Linked DNA regions of Homo sapiens: region 2 is linked to region 1. The links come from fine-mapping of genetic effects on gene expression. A gene starts in region 1. The other region holds a variant in brackets. All regions are shown on one strand. Distances are from middle to middle.

Region 1 (8,429 bases):
CAGTGAAATCAAAAGTCAAATTTATTTGAATATTTATTTTTTATTCAATTCATTTAAAAATTCAAATTTTTATGGTATCTAGAATTTTCTTGTATGTTACTAGAAAAGTAATAGATTAAAAACTTAGAGTCTTTTTTGTGCAAAGATACATTTGCTGTAATGCCATTCTACTGTATCCTCCATGTTTCATAGTAAATTAAACCACATTTTATAGGCTGTGTTGCTAATGTATCAAATACAGTGCCATGAAATCTGTGCGCACTCCAGCTTTTTGAACTGTACTATTTTGCCCTTACAGGCAAGGATGAAGTTTAAGGGTTTTAAATTCACATTTTTATAAAAACTCTGAATAATAATTTTCAAATGACACTTAGATGTGGTATTTTAACCTGTATAGGTATAAAATTTGACACGTTTACTTTCAGTTTTATTATTTTACCTCTCTTTTTCTCTCTCTTCTGCTATATTCTTTAGAAGCTAGGCAAGTTTCTGGCCATCTTGCCACAGGTTTGAGTTTATAATCCAATATAAACATGCTTGAATATTTTAAAGTAATCCTACCCCCAGAGTTGGTCAACTCTTTTCCCCCTACAAATGTTTTCTTCCCTGATTCAGTTATTTATTGCTGTGTAACAAACTACCACAATACTTAGTAAATTTTTTTAAGTATGTTATTTCTCAAGTTTCTGTGGGTTTGTTGGTCTAAGCTGGGCAGTTATGCTCCATGTGGTACTGTCTGGAGTTACTCATGTGATATACTCAGGTAGGAGCTTAGCTGGAGCTAGAACATGCAACACGACTTTACTCATATAGCTGGTGCCTTGGGGAAGTGGTTGGGATGGTGTGGATGGAGAGAGAGAGCTAGGCCTCTCTCTGCATGTAGTTTCTCATTATTCAGTAGTTGTCTGAGTTTCCTATATGGTGACTAGATCCTGAAGCTAGTGAAAATGGAAGCTGCAAGGTCTCTTAGGGTCTAAGCCCATAAGTCACATAAGATCTCCTCCATGCATTCTATGGGTCAGAATAAGTCCCGGGGCCAGCCTAGGTTCAAGAGAAGAGGACATAGATTGACCTCTTGATGGTAAAAAACAAAGTGGCATGAACTTACAGGAATGGGGGAATTGTTGGTAGCCATATTTGCCTATAATTTACTACTCCATATACAGAAAAATGATACCAAGTGGACTCTTCTTCTTGAGGGTGGGTGCAATTAAAATTCTGAGGCTTTTTGGAAATTTTGTATTTAACAATATTATCTAATTCTTATATATACATTTTTTATATATTCTTATATAGTTACAGTAATATAAAGCAGGTTATAGTTTTATATAAAATATGGCACCTATTGAGAGAATGAACATTCCTTTCTTTTAATCATGATTTGTGGTTTTGTTTTTAAGCCTTATGATCACATATAATTTTAAAATTTGTGTATATCTCCTCTACTTTAATCATTTTAAGTTGGCAAAAGCACCATTCCCAATCACAAATACACAGCAGTTCTACGATTTTCTGTTTCTGAATGGCTTTTTTTTTTTTTTTTTTGAGACAGAGTCTCACTCTGTGGCCCAGGCTGGAGTGCAGTGGTGCGATCTCAGCTCACTGCAAGCTCTGCCTCCCGGGTTCACGTCATTCTCCTGCCTCAGCCTCCCCAGTAGCTGGGACTACAGGTGCCCGCCACTACGCCCGGCTAATTTTTTGTATTTTTAGTAGAGACGAGTTTCACCGTGTTAGCCAGGATGGTCTCAATCTCCTGACCTCATGATCTACCACGCCCAGCCTCTGAATGGCTGTTTAAAGACAATCCTAAATTATAACTTAGTTTGACTTAGATTGTAAATAATTCAAGAGTGAAGTTTAACTTGCTACTATTTTAAAAGCATATTATCTTACAGATCATCTATAAAATGTGAGAAGTGTTAAATAATCTTTATTTGATATTACACATACACCACACTAAAATGCCTTTCAATAAGTAAAAGGAACTATTTTAAATACAGGGAATTCTAATTAGATTGACATAGTTAAGGCCAAAAATATAAAGTAGACATTGCTACCTTATCTTCAACCCTTGCCTTTAAGAGGCAAATGAACACAAAACACAGGTGAATCTTGCTTGGTTCTGAGATAGTGAAGGAATTTCTCCAGTATTTAAATATATTCACATAACCAGTTATATAAATCCAAATATAAAACCAATCTCCAATATGTTTTAAGATGGCATTCACCATCTTTGTGAAAAGCTGAACATTACTAACAAAGTCTAATCAAATCATGTCTTTAGAAAGGGTAAACAGTGATAGCATTTACTGAATTGGATTACTATTAAAATTCAAAAAAACTGAACATATTCATTTAACTGCAAGCCAGTCTTAGTTTTACATCAGGACTGCCCAACAAAATATTCTGTCAGTTATTCATGATCTGAATTCTGGTGTGTGAGGTCTATTAAATTATGGTACACATAAAAAAGTCATAAGACATTTCTGTTTTGTAATAAATAAGGCAGTGGCCAATTATTATTCATTAGTAGCTTTTTTGAGATAAGCTATCAAGTCTGCTCTTTCTGCCTTCTTCTTAATGCTGGCAAAGATCACTTTGTTCCAGAGATGTGCTTCTTGGGATTCTCCAAATACTCCATCAGTGTATCCTCTCCCCAGGTGATGCCTTTGTTCTTAATGGCATCTGTGTAAAATAATCCAACGGCTTGACCTGTCTTCCATCCGAAGAGACCATGGAGATTAGGCCCAGTCCTGTGCTTGCCTGCCTTTTCCACAGTGTGGCACTGGGCACACTTCTGAATACAAATCTTCTTGCCTTTCTCAACATCATCCATATTTAATCCTCTCTTTTGTTGCTTGTGCTATGAAGGATGACACTCAGAAGCTGGATGTCACACTCTCTGTATATTCTTTTCGAGTCAACAAAAAAGTTGGGCTTTGAAGTTGAGCACGTGAGTTTGAATCTTAGCTCTGTCTGGTCATAGCAGAAGGACCTTGAGCAAGTTTCACTTTTCTCCGCTGTATTTATAGGATTATTGTGAGAATTAAATAAGTCTATATATATAAAGTGCTTAGAAAAGTGCCTGGTGCACAATAAGCACACAATAAATATCAGCTTTAGAAATATACATTATCAGTAGCTATTATTATATAATATAAATTATCGGTAGTTATTGTAATAGCCAACACCTTTGGCTTATACCTCCTGGAGCTGTAAAGCTCTGTGGTTTTATTAAGCTTAATCATTAATCCTGAATACTTCTCCTGGCTCCCCTACCTCCTGCCAAGTAAAAGTAGGAAGTTATCCTTACTCGTTTATAGGTGTAAGAACTGGCTGATTAACAGGAGTCCTAAAGAAGTGATTTACCAATGTTAAAAAAATTGAAACCCATATTAAGAAATATAATTTCTACTGTATCCAGGACATAGACACACAGACACTCACCCACACATGATGCTGTACAAATGTTTCATGAAGAATACTTATCCTGAATTTATGCTTTGAACTGTTTTTTTTTTCTATTTTTCAGTGAATCAACAGCAACAAAATGTTGGTTGTGACCCATTGTTATTAATTTCATTACCTACCAAAGGGTTCTAAGCTATATCTTATGGTCAGTGGAGAATAGGCTACTAACACATTAAACTTTATGCACAGGAATTGTTTCAGGTGTGGTGCTATAAGAATATGTCACATGTAATTTCCAATCTGGTTGGCTCGGTTACAGAGCAGATTGCTCTTTCAGAAATACACCGTGACCTCCCTACTCAAGAGGCTTCATAAACTCTTTCAGTGAGACATAGCAGTCTAGGAGAGGCATGTGTACAGTAAGTGTTATGATTTTTTGGTACTATAATAAGCAAAGTGCCTTTTTGTTTATTTGGAGCTACATGAAGCTAGGCCGGAATTCCAGCTTCATAACTTACTATCTTGTATTTTTGAGCAAGATATTTAAACTCAGTTTTGGAGTCTTAGTTTTTTGATTTAAGTAATACACAAATAGCATAATATTGGCACATGGAAGACAATGAGAATTCATTTCATGCTTTCTCCCCTGATCACGGATCACAAACTCCAGAATTCATAGTTACTATTAGTTTGTGTGTTTTATATTTTTGGAGGAAAGCTAAAATTTGGTAGATTATTAATTCTATATTAACACACTATAGTCAAACCCTATTTTTAAATGCAATTTAATTTCTGCAACCACTGATGATCCCAATATTCTGTCAAATACTAGGTAACAGTTATTCATTATTTTAGAATATGGATCTGAATTATGAAATAATTTTGCATTCTAAGGTCTTATGTAGTAAGATTTGGATTAACTTCCCAATTATCAACACAATTGTAGGAAATCTCCTGAGAAAAAATATTTCTAACGATTGTGTATCTTATAATTTAAAAAATAAACGTGACTTGGAAAATGCAAGGACTACTGTTCTTCTTGGGTGGTGCATTAAAGGTGATCAGAATTCTAATGACGCTGGACAGTAGGATTTTCAGAATCAGTTTCCTAGGGTTCAAGAAGTCAAACGGCAAATAACCCAAGGTCCTTGGTTGATCTGACCATCTCAGCTATCTCAAGATATATAAGATGACCTAACTGGCGCATCTCTAGGATGGGTGGGTCATTTAAAATGTTCTGCCCTTGAGGCTGGGATTTTGTGCGTGTAAACGGTGGGGAGACGGCGGTGACACATTTTTCTCCCTCCCGTAGTGCCACCCGGCGCAGGGCCGCTGCGGCGGCGGCAGCTCCCACGTGGCAAGTTCAGATTGTGCAGCGCCTGGCCGGGGGCGGTGGGCGGGACCGCAGACCCCTCCCTCCGCTCTCCGGCCCTTCCCTCTGGCCGGCCCGGGCGCCCGCTTGGTCCTCCACCGCCAGGGGGCGGGCGCGGCTTCCCGGCGGCGGGGGCCCATTGGTCGCGGCCGGGAAGCGTGGGAGGAGGCCCAGCGGCGAGCTGGCTTTCTCCTGGCCACTTGCCGGGGTGAGGGGCAGCCGGAGGAGTCCGAGAGGAAGCGGAGGCGCGAGCTGGAGGCGGCGGCTCCCGTCGGCCTCCGGCAGGACTGAGCGCTGGGAGGCCGGAAGGCGGGCGCGCGCGGCGGAGAGGCGGGCGGGAGGCCGGTGAGACGGCTGGGAGGCGGACGGAGCCGGGGCTCAGGTTCGGGGAGGGATGGAGGAGGCCGGGGAAGCCAGACGCCCACCTACGACTTCAGCCTCCGCGCACTGCGGTCACCGGCCGGGGGCGGGCCCCGGGCCCGGCCGCGTTGTCACGGCGTGTCCGGACGTTGGAGAGGGCGCAGGCGGGACTGGGGTCCCGGAGAGCCGCTGGCCGGGGTTCCCGGCCGCCGCCCCGGCGTGGGCATCCCCGGGCTCCGCGGAGACGGGGCGGCGTCTGCACCTGGCGCTGGCACTCGGCGCCCCGGCCTGGGGCGGGCACCTGGGTCGCATCTTCCCCAGGTTGGCTGTGGCTCGCGCCCCTGCAGCGTGTAGGCTGAGAGCTCCGAGAGGTGGGGACGGAGTTGGGTGTTGCATTCCAACTCCATAGGGGGCCGTTTTGACTCACTTGTAAAGTTTTAGTGTCGCCTATACTAGAGGTACTTTTGGTTTTTTACAAGCTATCCAGCCCTTTGATGTTTGGTGTCTCTTCTTTTTCTTCCTATTTGTTTGCTACTGCTCTCACAGCTCGGGACCACGGATGATGATTAGTGGCCCTAGATCTGAATATGTGAGTGACGGATTGGCAATTTGAGATTGAGAGCTCCAGCTGTTTTACTTGTGGGAGGAGCGGTTTCCATCATCCTCTACCTTTTTTTTTTTTAAGAAAAAATATTATTGCCTGTAATATAGAACTGCTATCTAATTGATAGGACTTTTCCTTTGTTTCTTTTTGGCCAACATGGTGAAACCTCGTCTCTACTAAAAAATAAAAAAATTAGCCAGGTGTATGTATCCATATATATATATGTATGTATGTATCCATATATATGTATGTATCCATATATATGTATGTATCCATATATATGTATGTATCCATATATATGTATGTATGTATCCATATATATGTATGTATCCGTATATATGTATGTATCCATGTATCCATATATATGTATGTATCCATATATATATGGATACAATGACATAAATAATATTAGATTGCTTACTGTGTACTAGGCACTGCCAAATGGTTTCGTGTGCTCATTTATTCTCACAACAGCTCAGTGAATAAGTCCCTTTATCTTTTCTAGTTTTACAGATGGAAATATGAACTCCCGAGAGTAAAGGTCAATGCTGATAGCAGAGGCCCCGACCCCTTGGACTTGTGGCCAATTTGCAGTTACGTTTTCTTAAGTCTTGGGAACCGTTACTATTAGTCATACAGTATCTTACAGAGTACCAGCAGATCTCTATTGAATTTAGAAAATAAAAGTTAATCACTTACTGAAAGCCATTTAACAAGAAATTGGCAGAATCAGCAAATCAGCATCCGGTTTTGGTCACTTCATCGACCTGTACCTCTTTCTAGAGGCTACTAGTAGTCTCTTGTGTTTCTTGGCTGTTTACCAATAAAGTCACAAGGTTTTCAGTTTTATACAGGTATTAGAAGCTTTGTTTCACAGATTCTTGTAATGTTTTCTCAACTCAATAAAGACTAGCATTTCTTCATAGGAAGAAATAAGAAGAGTTGGAGCCAATAAAAGGAGTTCAGTCCAGCAGTTCTCAACCTGAGGACCTCTCTGAATTACCAATGGGAACTTTGTAAGAGGGACACAGGACAGGTTCCTCAAAATCCTCATTGTAAGGGGCTTCTGTTTCAAAAGGGAGTAAAAATAAGACACTACTGGCTTAAAGTGACTTTAAAAATAAACTTAATGGATGTTTTATTACAATTACAGATTTTTAATGTGGATTGCTGCCTTAAGCATTGTCAACTAATCTTTCATAATTTATGAAGATACATTAAAAAGGAAAAGGAAATTGGAAAAGACAGCCAAAAGGCTAAGAGGCTATGGAATGGCAAAAAGTAATGTTCCCTGAGGGGGTATCAGAAGACTCATATATTTTCCACCATATATTTTAGGTTTTGAACGATTCATTTTTCAAAAATTTTTATACTCTTAAAAATACTGGAGTGCCTACCATGTACCAGTAATTGTAGATATCATGGATACTATGAATAAGACAGCCTGGGCACTCACAAAGCTACTTTATTTTCTCTAAAGCAGGGAATCTTTTTTATTTTTATTTTTATGCCCATTTCTTAAAGCTGAAAGGTGCAAGACCCAAATAGCAAAAGATTTTTATGTTAGCGCTGAGCTAGATAGATTTTTGTGCGACCTTGGTATAATAGCAAAAGTTTGTCTTGAATTTAGTCCAGAAGCGTCTCTGTTCTTGGGATCAGATGATCAGGATTTGAAGCATTGATTCTGTATTTAGTTATTTCAAGAGTGGCATTGACTAAATTACTTAATATCATGCAGTCCTTTTTAATCTGATTGAGTAGACTGAACCAGGTAATTTCCCAAAATCTTTGAACTTTTAAAAGGTTTTGTACTTTCTTTTAATGCAATTCTTTGAGACACAATCGGCTGACTTCCTCTCAGAGGAGGAAATTAAGTGTTGTAATACCCCTAAGTCTTTCCAGTGTACCCATTAATATTCTTTTTCTTCTTCATTGGCCTGCTCCATTTGATTGAAGCTATTCTTATATTTCCCTTATTTTTAATCTAATTTTGAAAATCCGCTATTCATGATTTTTCTAACTTCAGTGAGTTTTTTCTTCCAATTTTCTTTTTTAAATTAAATTCCTGTAACAGAATTTTTCATTTTATTTTTAAATTATTTACAAAGACAGGGTACCCCACTGTTCTGCAGACTGGAGTGCAGTGGTGTGATCATAACTCACTGTAGCCTTGAACTCCACCTTAGCCTGTGGAGTAGCTAGGTTTACAGGCATGTGCCACCACACACGACTAATTTTATAATTTTTTTTCTTAAAAGACGGGATCTTACTATTTTGCACAGGCTGGCCAAATCTGCCCTCAGGTGATCCTTCGACCTCAGCCTCCCAAAGCTCTGGGATTACAGACATGAGCCCCTATGCCTAGCCAGATTTTCCATTTTAAAGTGTGGCATTTAGCACGTTCATGATGTTATGAACCGTCACGTTTCTAAAACATTTTCATCACCCCAAAAGGAAACCCCATATTCATTAAGCAGTTGTTCATTCCCTTCTCCCTGCCAATCCTCGGCAACCACTGATCTGCTTTCTGCCCCCATAAATTTATCTATTCTGGATTTTCCTAAAAATTGAATAATTCAATATGTGTTCTTTTGTGTCTGGCTTCTTTCACTTAGCATGTTTTAGAGGTTCGTCCTCTAAATCAGCAGGTATCAGTACTTCATTCCTTTTTAAGGGTGAGTA
Region 2 (8,272 bases), 50 kb after region 1:
TATTTGAAATAACTATCGTACTTTTAAATTTCAAAACTTGAAAATTCTGCATGGGAATATTTTTTCCTACAGGACAATGCATTGGAATAGGATTACCTATCTTAAGCCTTTTCGGAAGCTTTAGTTATTAAGGATTTTAATTGAGCTTTGGATTTTAGAATCAGTGAAGTTTGGAAATATTTTAGAACTTAGTAGAATGTAAATGTTAGTTTTTGAGTAGCAAATAATCCTTTAAAAGCACGTGCAATGTATTCTTTCAGCTGTTATTTGAAGGTCTGCCATGTATGTGATACAGCCTGAGGGTCACTCATTTAATATCTTGACCAGTAATTTAAATGAACTTATTGTTGACATGAGTATTACTGAAATGAGAAGTGTGTAAAATGTTACGGCAAATCAGCAGTTTACAACGGTTTTTTAAACTGTATATTATTACTGTGTTCCAATAGCACATAAAGAACAATAAGGATACAAACAAATATGAAGGATGGCCTGAAGTTGTAGAAATGGAAGGATGCATCCCCCAGAAGCAAGACTAATGGAAATGTGGAGAGAATTGAAGAAAGCGCACTTTCACTCTTAATGGGAGAGCTATAAATGGCAGAGCTATGTGTAAATATTTTAAGAGCATGCAGCCATCTTGGTGTGTGCATGAGTATTGTCTCTTTTGATATCAGGATTATTTATTGCTAACGTAAATAGATAGCATTGTAAATAATCATCACAATGATCAAATCACTGAACCATGTCTCCGCACATTTCCCTAAAAGTACAATGTTTAGACTGCTATGGTAATACATATTTTAAATTCTAAAAGCATACACAATGTGTAACTGAATGGTTTGTGAAAAATATATTGATATATATACTAGTTGCTATGAAAATATCATGGAATAATAGGGATTTTAGGGTGGATACTTTATTTTCTTTTATGTTTCTATATGTTGCGTTGTGATGACATTATCTTTTAAATTAAAAAGAGATTTGGCTAGTTGTGTGTGTAATGTTACTTTACAGTCCGACTCTCCTGATGTACCTCTTTTCATGATCTTTTTCTTTCCTTCCCAAGAAACTGAGGAATGTTTAATATGAAAACATACATCGGATATGTGAAAAGCACAACAAAATTCTTAATGTACACAGTAAAAAAGTAAATATATAAATGTAGATGGCATTTAGGACCACAGCTTGCTGGATTTGTGTTAGCTATGGGAATAACTTGATTTTGTATAAGCTATTTAGAGTGAGGCTGGAGGTGGCAGCTTCACAGAACTGGAGAACCAGGCCAAGTCCCCTCCCCAACCTAATTAGGTCATTCAGGACAGCTAAGTCAGTATATTTAGAGCAATACTAGCATACGTTTTTCTTAATTGTTATCAGCATTGACCAAGTGGTTTGGAAGGAGGCATGCTTTAATATCACAATAATTTTGATTTGTAAACCAAGAAATTAATCCTGTGTTTATCTAACTTCATAATAGCAATTATTGCCCGAAGCTATAGTGGCATATTTACAAAAGTTCTTATTACTGGGCGGACTGATAACATTTAAAAAATAATTGTGTTTGACCCCAAATGACTTTATACCCAATTCTACATAAAAATATAGAAGATCTATCTTTTTTTGTTACCTTCAGATGTTCACTAAATAACTCAGTTTTTAAGCAGAAGTTTTCAGGGCATTAAATATATGTTGTGTATGAAGTATCTCAAACTGGAACATAAATTTAGTGATCAAACTGCCATTCACAGTGTAAGGCAGCACTTAAATTTCGAACCTAAAGTTTAGATGCATTGTATAAAAAAACCTAAAAGCAGTATCTGTTATTTAGCTGTAAACCAAGTTGGAAGCTATTCGGATAATTTCTTAAATATTGATGAACTTTGGAGTACTGTTTCTTCCTTCAAACTGAATGTAATTAATTCATGAATAAATGCACCTTATATGTTTAAACAATCTTTGTATACTTTTGGGATTTTTGGTGCTTATATGCTAAATCACATTCAGCATGTGTATTTTGACATTTAAAATACTTCCCTCAATTCTGTAAATTAAAAGAATAGTTATTTTACAGTTCCAGGGATTGTGAAATAAATGTTGCAGTTTTTTAAAATAATGAAAATAAATACTCTTGGTTTTGCTTTGTGAATTTTTTTTTTTTTTTGTATTATCTGGCAAAGTAATATACCTACAGAACTTCACAAAAACTCACACAAGGTTTTTCAAGCATTTATTATACTGCCTAACTTGGAAAAAAAATTGTTGCTGTGGTTAAAAATAGTAATATCCTAGATGTGTCTTAACATGTAAGAAGCTAAGTATCTAGATGGCGGAAAAAGCCCTTTTATTAAGACTGTAAAAGGATAGCTTTTCCAGATATATAAAATGTTAAAAGAAGACAAAGATTGGTTATGTTAACTGGTGTGGTTTCCTTTTGTCTCAGTTCAATCTTGTATAGATTGTGCCAACTTAACTTTGAAAGCAATAACTTTATACTACATTTTCAGATACCTCTTTAAAATCGGTTTTAGACATGAAACAGTGCTCATTTAATATTAAGAATGTTCTTTATTAAAATCAAATTAACATTGACATAGTATTTGAAATGGTGCTTATGGGCTTATCGATGCATATTTTTTATTTGTAATCCGATGCTGTCCCAGAATAAGTGTATTGTAATGTGAATGTTAAAATTGAACAAGAGAAAGCAGGAAAATAAGTGGTATTTGGGAAATTAAAGGAAGATTGAACCAGAGTCTTTATATTCCTGAATTTAATTGGATTAATGGGAAATTTATCATTGTTCTTTCTATATTGGACTTGTTTTTAAGTGAATCAGCTATGTTATAATTTTATGACAGATCAAAGCTGAGTTCATTTAGCCTGTTGCACTTTATACTTTAAAAATTTACATAAATTTTAAATAACTTGACCAAAAAAGTTATAATTTCATTCAGTTTGGTCAACAAACTCTCCCTTAATTGAATGCAAAATGTGCCATGTTCAGTTAGTAGAGCAATTAAAAGTGGAAATTCATTTAGAATACTTTGTTTCAAAGGAATATGAGAGAGATAAATTACTTGTGTTGATTAGGGAGATTTGTCACTTAAACCTCTTCAATTATTTCAACCTCTTGTACAGCAATAAATCCATGTAAATTTAGAGCTATAGAATAAAATAACAGATTGCACCTTTGCATTCCTCAAAAGGATTTTCTGTCTCTTTTCAGAATGATTTTTCTACCACATACTTGATTTTTGATTATCACATGCTGTAACTAGTTAATTTCTATTTCCATCCAAACTCGCTCAATTTAAGCCTTTTTTCTCTGCTTGCTCCTTATTGTGATTTTTTTTTTTTTTTTTTGAGTTTCCAGGCAAATCAAAGGCTAGATGGAGTGAAAAGTAAGCAGGCTTCGCGAGGGAATGTCATTCATTTGTTGCTAGACAGCATGAAGAGAGCATCAAAGGATGTTTCAGGCAGCATGGGAAAAGCCCTCCAGGGAATCTAAGAGACTCTTCTGCCATCAGAACCTTCCTCCAGGCCAGTGAGGGGGCAAACACCTTGAGGGAAGCTATACTGGGGAAACACTTCAAATAGTTAGATGTCTCTTCTATGAGCGGTCAGAAAGGAAAAGGGACTGGGAAGTTCTCAGGTTAAAGACAGAAGAGATGTTTCTCTTGGGCTTGTCCCATGGCAATTTGTAAGCAAAGTTAGCATGGGGAAGACAATCTTCTCAGTACAACTAGTTCACAGGTACAACTTGTTGCCATCACTAACTTCACTGTTCAGCTCTGCATCAGTTATGACAACCACTGGGGTGCATTTAATATTGAAAGAACAAGCTGAGGCTAAATTGATAAAAGATACTCCCTTTGGTCAGGGAAAATTGACTTATAACCTGCAAGCTCGTAATGTTCCGTATAGTCAGCCCATATTTCCTTCACTTGATAGCCAAAGAGAAAAGGGTCTGAAAAACCTTTAAAGAGGAGAGAATTCTGTAGTGGGGAGACAGTGTGGCATAGTGGTTAAGAGTGCAGACTTGCCTGAAAATTCATCTCTGTTCCACTGTGAACTACTTGAGGACTTTGAGGAAGTCAATGTCCACCTGTAAAACAGGGATAATACCAGCATGTTTGTGGTGCCTATCAAAGTGCCTGGCACAAAGTACTCATTCAGTGCAACTGCTAGTATTGCTGTTATCAACCGTGTGTCTTACAGGCATTTTAGCCCAAGAGAAGCTGCAACAAGTCAGCCTCTCTAGCTTTCCAATCCCATCATACCCAGCCAGAAGGGAGCCATTAGATGACTTGAGCAGTAAGATCATGGGAGAGGTTTCATTCATTTCTTCACCTGAGGTTCTCCTTGACCTCCAAACCTCTTTCATATTCTGCCTACCTTTTCACTTATTACACATTGACACCAACTCCCCTTCATAGGTAGAATTCAGGCTTTTATGTATCTCCAAGTAGCTACCATTTTAAGTGGTTAATTTATGTATTTTGGTGTATCTTCAGGTAGCTAGCATTTTAAGTGGTTCTACTTGATTGCTGGTCTGGCCTTTAGGGGAAAGTATGTGACTTAAGCCAAAGAGGCTGGGAGCCCTTGCTGACCTCTTCCTGTGGCAGGAGGTGGTTGATGAGCCTCACTGGAGAGTGCAGGCCTTGATCCCTGCTCCTAATAACCTCACCAC[T/C]CCAATTCCTGCTGCGGGGCAGGGTGGCATACTGATCATGGTGGGGAAGATGCTGGGGCTCAGCTGGCCCTCTCTGACACAGAACAAACTCAACAGTGAGGCCAGTGACTTCCCCACCAAATTGTAGCCTCCTGTATCACCAGTGGAATAAGATGGCCGATTTGGACATCTACCTGTTGAAAAGAATTGCTCTGTTTTCCATAAGTATATCCCTCAAAGCAGAGGAGACTAATGGTCACCCTTGGGAATCTTGTCTTTTAGCGAAAAGTCCAGTGTGAGCCTGTGAAGTTCTCTGATTGTAAAACTTCACATGAATTTTGCATTTTTTTATTATTTACAGATGTTGGTATTAACATGGAAATCTCTTAAATTATTTTAAATTTCAACTCCAAAAGCTACTTAGCTTGTGTATGCTCTGTTTTTTGGAAGGCTGGTTACAGAAGTATTATGTGCTCTATTTGGCAAGAACAGAAAGGAATCCCAAGGAGTATGCATTGTGAGTCCAACCTCTGAGAAGAGGAGAGATTTAAAAGCAAATGATGGTTGGGCTATGGTTAGAAATATGTTGGGTTAGTGGAGAAGGCAGTATTCCCTGAGAGTTGTGGTTTTCAGTGGGTAGAAGTGGGAGAGTCAATTGGTGAAGATTTCCTTAGGTGTAAGGAATGAGCAAGAACTGGGCCTTATGTCCTGCCTCCTTCTTACCTGGGGAGTGCAGCCTGCCCCAAATGGCTTCCTGTTCTCCCTTAGGGAAAGGACTTAAGGTTTAAGGTAAGTGAGCTCATTCCTAGACCTCTATGGAAATCTGAAACGTTTGACCAAAAATGATATTGACAGCTAATTCTTGTGGAACTGTTAAGACCTTACAAAAGGGTGTTAAAATTATATTATGGAAATAGTCTGGATTAGGTTCCCTGTGGTTTTAAAGCACTGGATGTGTTGGATATGGGCACAGTTACAGGAATTGTGGCAAGTGAAATTTTGAAATCATTCTTGTATTTTAAAGTATAGTTTCTCAAAAAATGATGAATTGGGCATTTGGGGAAAGCAAAACAACTTTAAGCCGGTGAAGGAAATAATTTCTCACACTGAGAATTGAAATTTATCTTTCAGTTTGCAAAGTTCCTGTACCCATTAAGTAGGGGACATGTTAGAGAGGATTTATCCCATTCACTTCTTCAGCTTTCCCATTTTGCTATTGTGTCCTGTGTTATTTCTTGCCTTGCATAGAGCCTTGTTTGCCAGGGAATTTGAGATAAAACAATGACAGTGGATAGGACTAAGAGAAAGTAAGGATTATGTACTGGCAATACATAGGTAGTTATTGATTTCCATTTTGTGTATCTACACCTTTCGTTGGTTTCCAGAGAATTCGAGGTGTATTTAAATGTACTGGTATATTTGGTGATATTTCTCTCACCAAAGAGTGAGTAGGGGCACCAAGGATCTGCCCTTTCTTCTTGGCTAAACAGGGCCAAGTAAATGTGTGGGCCATGATCATGGGTGTCAGGTGGTTACTAAAATGTGGAAGGAAAGGCTTGGCCTCTGCAGTAGAGCTACCCTGATGGTTCTGAATGGCCATCTGATAGGGACAAAGGCAGCCCTCAGCCACCGCCCTTTCTGCCTTTCCAATTCACATGAATCAGATGCTTTTACTTACTCTGCAAATTATAAAGTCACACATGAAACTTTAGTTTGTGTTGACTTGATTCTCCTTTATTACTTTACAACCACATGGGAGAGGCTGCTTTTGCTAGTATGATTTTGTTTCAAAAAGTTTTAATCTGGTGCAAACCACCTCTAGTGGTTTTCCTTTGGATATGAGTGTAAACCATTACAAATAGTAAATTTTAATCCATCTGTTAAAAATAACACCTTATGTAACATTTGGCTGTAAGCACAACAATAAAAAGGATGTAAGTATTTATTTTATGTCACACTAAATTAGTTTGATCTTTACCCCTAGTTATTTTCTTTTGGAATGGTTATTAGATTCTTGCACAATCCAACTGTAAGCCACATTGCAATCTAAAATAGAAGTCAGCGTAAGTCACTTTGGGCTTAGTAATCAAGAGGCAGTGTATTTTAATTTTATTTCATAGTAAATTCTAAGATCTCAGCTCTCCCATCACTTCGCTCCCTACTTTTCAACCAAGTTTATATAACCAAACCATGAAGAACATCCTGTAACTTTCATTACATTCACAAATCCCCTAAATTCTTTAAATGGCATATGTTTGTAAACACAGTCTGACAATTCTGATACTGTGAGAAGCACAATAACAATGTGGTAGTTAAGGGCACAGACATTGAAGCCAGTTCCTTCTGTGTGACCTTGGGCTGGGAACTTACTGTGTGTCTCAGTTTCCTCAGCTGTAAAACGAAAACTACAATAATGTACCTACTTTACGAGGTTGTTGTGAAGATTGAATTTTTATATGTATCTCTCTATATATTTTTTACTTAGACTAATACGGGTATATACTAAGTGCTATGGAGGTATTTGCTAATATTATTTATTCTTTCAAAGTAAATTAGTCCTTTCCTTGTGTATCACTGTGTCCCTTGTCATGCTGTGCCACGTGTCATCATCTTGCCCCCAAGAAATGTCATGATTTATCACATCTGGTCTATAGTAAAATTTAAATTAATTTCAAAAAGGAGACATCTTAGCCAACTTTCTTTAAGAAAGGCTTGTCTTGAGGAGTATTTGAGGTTTCTGAAGATAGGATTCAAATTTTTCTTCCCTCAAATCACCTAAGGTAATCAGTGTTCCAGATCACTTCCTGCCTCTAAATAGTGAGTCGAATTTCTCAATCTTTGATGACCTTTGGGAGGTGATGCAAAAAGGATGAGCAACTCACTAAATTGCCTAGAAATAAGTATTTTGATGAGACGCTTTTCTGTTTCTACTACGTATTTAAACTTAGTACAAATAAACTTAGTACAAATATTTAAACTAAGTACAAATATCATATTAGTACTAACAGTCCTGGAGAAAATTAAAATGTGTTTTAAAATACTTACTGTGCATATCACATAGTTTTAAAGCTGCCAAAACATAAGGTCACAGCATCTAATGTGTAAAATTAAAATTTTGTTGTTATTTTTAATATAATTATCATAGTCTCTTAAAATAGAAAACAAAATGACTATCATCCGAATTGTGAATAAAGAAATAATGCAGTTGTTTATACTAAAAAGAATTAACATGTTGTTAATGTTGTGTAAAGTACCATTATCAGGAAAATGCCTTAATTATTCAACTTCCTAATCCAGATGTTACAGATAATATCATTTAATATGTTTTTCTTGACTTTGTTTCAGGATGAATCATTGCCTCTTACCATTGCCTTTATTAGGCAGTTCCAAATTTACAAAGAATTTGAACTCCTAAATTGAAAAATAATCCACTGGAGCACCTCCCTTCGCCCTTTAACATTATGCAAGGTATTTAAACAAATCAAAGCACTTTGAACCCACATTCATAATCCACAGTGCTTAGGGCTTGCTTTGTCTGTTGTGAGCTCCATGTAATATCAAAAGCTGTTTCCTAAACAGCTCACTAGAACTAAGGCATAT

What was found. PIP is the estimated chance that this variant, and not a neighbour inherited with it, causes the effect.
Region 2: its variant is fine-mapped to the expression of FAM3C in sun-exposed skin (GTEx, PIP above 0.99). The same link has a PIP of 0.9 or more in fibroblasts, lung, prefrontal cortex and whole blood.

The regions. Positions count from the first base shown.
Region 1 is chr7:121,392,861-121,401,289 of GRCh38, reverse strand. It overlaps FAM3C (FAM3 metabolism regulating signaling molecule C), which reads left to right and starts at 4,982. Exons shown (of 10, transcript NM_014888.3): 1 at 4,982-5,128. It also overlaps the pseudogene CYCSP19. RefSeq lists silencers at 4,618-4,677, 4,718-5,547 and enhancers at 4,775-5,359, 5,360-5,945.
Region 2 is chr7:121,342,728-121,350,999 of GRCh38, reverse strand. It overlaps FAM3C (FAM3 metabolism regulating signaling molecule C), which reads left to right. Exons shown (of 10, transcript NM_014888.3): 10 at 450-2,122. The coding sequence ends at 539. Among named protein-coding and RNA genes, the nearest start is that of WNT16, 18 kb to the right of the region's middle. The variant T/C (reference allele first, on the strand shown) is at 4,694.